Homo sapiens: one gene and its partner. The protein of the gene in region 1 purifies or fractionates together with the protein of each later gene. This does not show direct contact. Each region holds a gene or a part of one and is shown in the gene's direction. Other genes may lie near its edges.

Region 1 (2,704 bases):
CATTTCAAAGTACACTGCTTTAATAGCTACAATATGTTTTAACATTTTATTGAACTACATAATACTGTAAAATTAACTTCCTTGGCTTTCCTGATTGGCAGTATCAATCACATATGTTTTCTTTACCTGACAATTGATAATATGCTTCTGTATTCTTTTTTCGTTTTCCTGTAAGTTCGAAGCATTCAGCAAACAATGGCAAGGCAGAGCCACCAGAAACGTACACCTGATTTTCATGACAAATACGGTAATGCTGTATTAGCTAGTGGAGCCACTTTCTGTATTGTTACATGGACATATGTAAGTACTATTGATTAATAATTTCTGTTTCAGATGTTTTTCATTCTCAGTCTATGCATTCAAAGTGTCTTAACATAGTAGTGTACATATCTAGTTAGGAGGGACTTGAGAGATTGTGTAATCTAATTACCCACACAGTGCAGGGGATTTTTTCCCCCCAGCATTCATCCATCTTCTGTTCTTAACATTCCCAGTAATAAATTGCTTACTGGATCACAAGGCAGCCCTTTCCATCTTGTGTAGCTGTTTTTTTTGTTTTTGTTTTTTTTTTTTTTTAAGAAGAAGTCTTGCTGTGTCCCCCAGGCTGGAGTGCAGTGGTGCGATCTTGGCTCACTGCAACCTCTGCCTCCTGGGTTCAAGCACTTCTTCTGCCTCAGGCTCCCAAGTAGCTGGGACCACAGGTGTGTGCCACCAGGCCTGGCTATTTTTTTTTTTTTTTTTTTTTGAGACGGAGTCTTGCTCTGTTGCCCAGGCTGGAGTGCAGTGGCGCGATCTCGGCTCACTGCAACCTCTGCCTCCTGGGTTCAAGTGATTCTCCTGTCTCAGCCTCCCAGGTAGCGGGATTACAGGCGCCCTCCAGTACGCCTGGCAGATTTTTGTATTTTTAGTAGAGACGGGGTTTCACCATGTTAGTTAGGCTGGTCTTGAACTCCTGACCTCAGGTGATCCGCCCGCCTTGGTTTCCCAAAGTGCTAGGATTACAGGTGTGAGCCACTGTGCCCAGCCTTGTGTAGCTGTTAAAAGGATCATATGGTGAGTTAAAATCTGCCTTTTTCCTATGCTACCCATTGTTCATTGAAGCACAGAAATTCTGACCCACTTCCATATAACAGCCATCAGATAATAGAAAATTGCTATCATATCTCCTCAATTTTCTTTTTCAAATTAAACATCCTTAGTTCTATCAGTAATTTTTTTGTTCATGGTTTCCAGGATTTTTACTGTCTTGGATCGCCTTCCTGGACATAACTTCACTTAACAATTTTTCTTTTAAAATTTTACACTCAGAACTTAGCACAGTATTCGTGACAGATGAGATGTAATGTATCTTTTTATATTTTAGTTTCTTTACATCTTACATTTAACAATCTATCTTTCAGTCACTGTTACTTACTGGCTAAAAGTAGGAGTCCTGAAGTCTGTGTTTTTTTTTTTTGTTTTGTTTTTTGTTTTTTTTTTTTTTGAGATGGAATCTTGCTCTGTCGCCCAGGCTGGAGTGCAGTGGCGCGATCTCTGCTCACTGCAAACTCCGCCTCCCGGGTTCACGCCATCCTCCTGCCTCAGCCTTCCGAGTAGCTGGGACTACAGGTGCCCACCACCATGCCCGGCTAATTTTTTGTATTTTTAGTAGAGATGGGGTTTCACCGTGTTAGCCAGGATGGTCTCGATCTCCTGACCTCGTGATCCACCCACCTCGGCCTCCCAAAGTGCTGGGATTACAAGCGTGAGCCACTGCGCCCGGCCCGAAGTCTTAATAAATGCATAAGTTGGTTTAAAAAGATACAAATTAATCCTTAATGTAATAAACTTTATTTAAATAAATAGGCCTTTTTAGTTTTTGTTTTGATCTTCCTGAAATCAAATATTAAGATGTGTGCCTAGGCTGGGCATGGTGGCTCACGCCTGTAGTCCTAGCACTTTGGGAGGCCCTGGCGGGTGGATCACCTGAGGTCAGGAGTTTGGTACTAGCATGGTGAAACCCCATCTCTACTAAAAATACAAAAATTAGCCGGGCGTGGTGGTGGGCACCTGTAGTCCCAGCTACTTGGGAGGCTGAGGCAGGAGAATCGCCTGAAGTTGGAGGGGGTGGAGGTTGCAGTGAGTTGAGATCGTGCCACTGTACTCTAGCCTGGGCGATAAAGCGAGACTGTCTCAAAAAAAAAAAAAGTCTCAAAAAAAAAATTAAAGTGTGCTTAATTAGAAGGATAAACAGATGTTGAACAAATGTTTGATCAGAGGAGCTTTTGGAGGTGAAATGTTCCTTAGTGATACAGAGAATATAAAATACTCTGGCAGTTACTTAGGTAGTTGTGGTTGAGGGAATCAGTGTATTGAGTGGGTAGTATAGAAATGTGAAGTATAAATTTGAATTAAATAAAATTTAAAAATTCATTTCCTTGGTGATACTAGTCATATTCCAGGTGGCTAGTAGCCACATGTAGCTAGTGACTACTGTTTTTAACAGTGAAGATCTAGAACATTTCCTTCAGCTCAAGAAGTTCTATTGAACAACAGGACTGCTCTAGAAAATTAGGACAGCAATCAGGTTTGGCCTATATGGAGGGTATTAGATCCCAGGTGAGTTTCTGTGTATTTTTAACCTATAGAACAGAATATCTGTCATTTTCAAGAAATAGTCTCCGAGAGAGTGTACTCTGGTTTAAACACGTAACTGACAGCATTT
Region 2 (3,500 bases), on another chromosome or scaffold:
ATACACCATGGAATACTATGCAGCCATAAAAAATGATGAGTTCATGTCCTTTAGGGACATGGATGAAATTGGAAATCGTCATTCTCAGTAAACTATCCCAAGAACAAAAAACCAAACACCGCATATTCTCACTCATAGGTGGGAATTGAACAATGAGACCACGTGGACACAGGAAGGGGAACAATCACACTCTGGGGACTGTGGTGTGGTGGGGGGAGGGGGGAGGGATAGCAGTGGGAGATATACCTAATGCTAGATGACGAGTTAGTGGGTGCAGCACACCAGCATGGCACATGTATACATACATATGTAACTAACCTGCACAATGTGCACATGTACCCTAAAACTTAAAGTATAATAATAATAATAATAAAAAAAAAGAACTGGCACTTTAGGAATCCTGAATTCAGATGCCTAAGGGAACTAGCAGATTATATCATCTAATCTAATGAAGCAAGCCTGGTGTAAAATAGTCAACTGACAGAAATAGGATACGCTATCTTCACTTTTACCCCTAACTCTAAGTTAATATTGGAGTTTGATATTCAGAATTAAGAAAAGGTGAACTGAAGTAATTTTTTTCTAGTTCTCCTCTTTACATTTGGAGCTTACAGTCTGATGCCAGGCATGGCATGCTAACTAGGGAGGCTGAGGCAGAAGGATCATTTGAGCCTAGGAGGTGGATGCTACAGTGAGCTATGATTGCACCAAGATTTTGGCACATCTCATCTTTTGGATTGGGATGTTTTTCTGCACTATTTGACTTCCTTAACCAGCAAGAATACTGAGTTTCATTTAGTTTAATTATAGAAAATGCGTGTTCATAAATTTAAGTACTTTCAAGCTGGAAAAGAATGTTGGCATAAAAAGTTTTGCCATTTGGGGTAACTATTCCGGAGATATTTGTAAAAATCTTAGATTCCATATCAATCATGTTTAGTTGTCCAATATTGCATTGTAACTTCCATTTGTAAAGTTCTTTGCTCATAGTATCATTAGTAATTGAGAAAGGCAGACTGAACAGATTATATCATTTTTATAAACCTTGAAATCATGAATTTTGTATGCCTGAGGGGTGGAGGGGACAGTTTACTTTCAGTTTCACACATGTAAAAATATATATAATTCAGGCCATCAGTCTTAGATTTCTGCAAACTGGGATAATTTCTTGCCAAACAAATGTTCTAAAAGTTAAAATTTCAGTGGGAATGAGTGAATGAAATCATGTATTTGTGTAATCATTTAAGAATGTCCCTTTCAGGAAATAGTGTTAGGAATACTTTATACCCTATGCAAAAATTAACACAAAACTGATCAAAGACCATAGCATAAGAACTAAAAGTATACAACTCTTAGAAGAAAGCATAAAGAAAAAGCTTTATAACATTGGATTTGGCAATAATTTCTTGGATATGACACCAGTAACACAGGCAACAAGAGAAAAAAGAGGTAAATTGGACCAAAATTAAAGACTTTTATGCATCAGGCACTATCAACAGAGTGAAAAGGCAACCCATGGGATGGGAGAAAATATTTGCAAGTCTATATCTGATAAAGGATTAATATCCAGAATATATAAAGAACTCCTGTAACTCAACAAATGAAACAACTCAAGACGCAAATTAAAAATAGGCAAATAACTTTAAATAGACATTTCTCCAAAGACAATATATGGATGGCCAATAAGCACATGAAAACTTAGGCGCTCAGCATGACTACTCACAATGAAATTGCTACCAAAACACCAGGGGTTTTGTCTAGGTCCTCCTGTTCACTGCACAGAAAGCCCATCACTGTCACGACAAGTATTGCCAAGGAAGAAGGCTTTAATCGGCTGCTGCTGCTGAGATGGGAGCTCAGCCTCAAATTCATCTCCCTAACCCACTAAAACTAGGGGTTTATATAGCAGGGAAGAAATGTAACAATGTGTAAGAAAACAAGAACTAGGGAGGGGCAAGGAGTCATCTGGTCTGGTGATCAGCTGAGTTTTGGTTCTTTGATACTTTTTTTGAAAGGCCTGAAGGTCCTTTTCTGGGGAAGAAACTCAAAACAGATGCAAGTTTCAAACTTTAACAGCAGAAGGGTCAATTTCTTTGTTTATCCAAAAAGAACTGTCTATGGGACTATTGGGTGGGTTTCAAAATGCTACTGCACACCCATTAGGATGGCTACTATAAAAAAAAATAGTAAGTGTTGGTGAGGGTGTAGAGAAATTGGAATTCTTGTTCTCTGTTGGTAGGAATGTAAAATGGTTTGGTGACTATGGAAAACATTATGGTGATTTCTCAAAAAATTAAACTGGAATTACTGTATGATCCAGCAGTCCCACGCTGTATATATTGAAAGCAGAATTGAAAGCAGGGTCTTGAAGAGATATTTGTATATCCATGTTCATAGCAGCATTATTCACAATAGCCAAAAGGTAGAGCAACCCAGGTATCCTTCCAGGGGTGAATGGATAAGCAAAATGTGGTATATACGTACAATGGAATGTTATTCAGCCTTAAAAAGGAATGGATTTCTGACACATGCTACAACAGAGGTGAATCTTGAGGACATTACGCTAAGTGAAACAGGTGAATCACAGAAAGACAAATACTGAACGATTCCATTTATATGAGGCAATAAAGTAGATGGCTTGTGATGTCATCCAAAAAGATCAAGTCCTGGATGCAGTGTTAGTGGGTGAGCCACGCCAAGGGTTTTCCCCTGGTTCCTGTGATGCATTGTTTTCAATGGGTCAGAAAGTTAGCTCTCTTCTGCACCATACCTCTAGCCTCCACCGCAGGCCCGCCAGCCATCTGTTGTGTTATGCATCCAGCTTAAGAAACAAAGCATCCAGCTGTCTACCCCTCAGCTTAAGGGACTGGGTCTTTTTCCTAGTGTTAGTTACCACCTACATGACCATTACTTTGTTAAGTTTCTGCAAAAATCCTCATACCTCAGGATCATGCTATAAGTGGAACAATATGATGAACGAGTTTGAGCTTCCGGGACTTGGAAAATGTTGTTTCTGTTGAATAAAAAGTGTGACATTAACAATGTGGGTCACATTTGTTAATTGTGACCAGTCTACATTAAACTTTTCATAGAACATGAGAAAGAACCATTTCCTAATATGCTTATCATGAATAATATATATTCATTAAGTTCTTCAGTCTCATCAAAATTCTCATCAGCTCCATGAGTAAATATAGTTATCTGAGTTATATTTATATCTGTGTTCTAATCAGCTGCCATTGGAAGCACCATAAATAGCTTGTCTTTTCCATGCAGCTTATCCCGTAAGTTCTCAGACCTATCTTTACTACACTGAGCAACATCATTGTCGAAAGTTAAATTTAAATTTGTCAATAATTCATTGTCTTCAGACACATATTTTCTGCCGTATCGAGTAAACACTTATATAAACTCACCATCTCTAACGGCTTGGGCAGCTTAAACACGTAATAACTGCATTTTGCGGTAGCATTATTGTATTTGTTTGAAAACAGTCTGTA

The links. Proteins that work in one complex are often made in the same cells at the same time.
Region 2: the proteins of COX7B (region 1) and AUH fractionate together in Homo sapiens (co-fractionation; one large-scale study listed by BioGRID). This does not show direct contact.

What each region holds. Positions count from the first base shown.
Region 1 is NC_000023.11:77,902,468-77,905,171, forward strand, and holds part of COX7B (cytochrome c oxidase subunit 7B, mitochondrial precursor), read left to right. Parts: intron 1-175; coding exon 176-300; intron 301-2,704. UniProt on the Homo sapiens protein: Component of the cytochrome c oxidase, the last enzyme in the mitochondrial electron transport chain which drives oxidative phosphorylation.
Region 2 is NC_000009.12:91,222,419-91,225,918, reverse strand, and holds part of AUH (methylglutaconyl-CoA hydratase, mitochondrial isoform 1 precursor), read left to right. Parts: intron 1-3,500. UniProt on the Homo sapiens protein: Catalyzes the fifth step in the leucine degradation pathway, the reversible hydration of 3-methylglutaconyl-CoA (3-MG-CoA) to 3-hydroxy-3-methylglutaryl-CoA (HMG-CoA). Can catalyze the reverse reaction but at a much lower rate in vitro.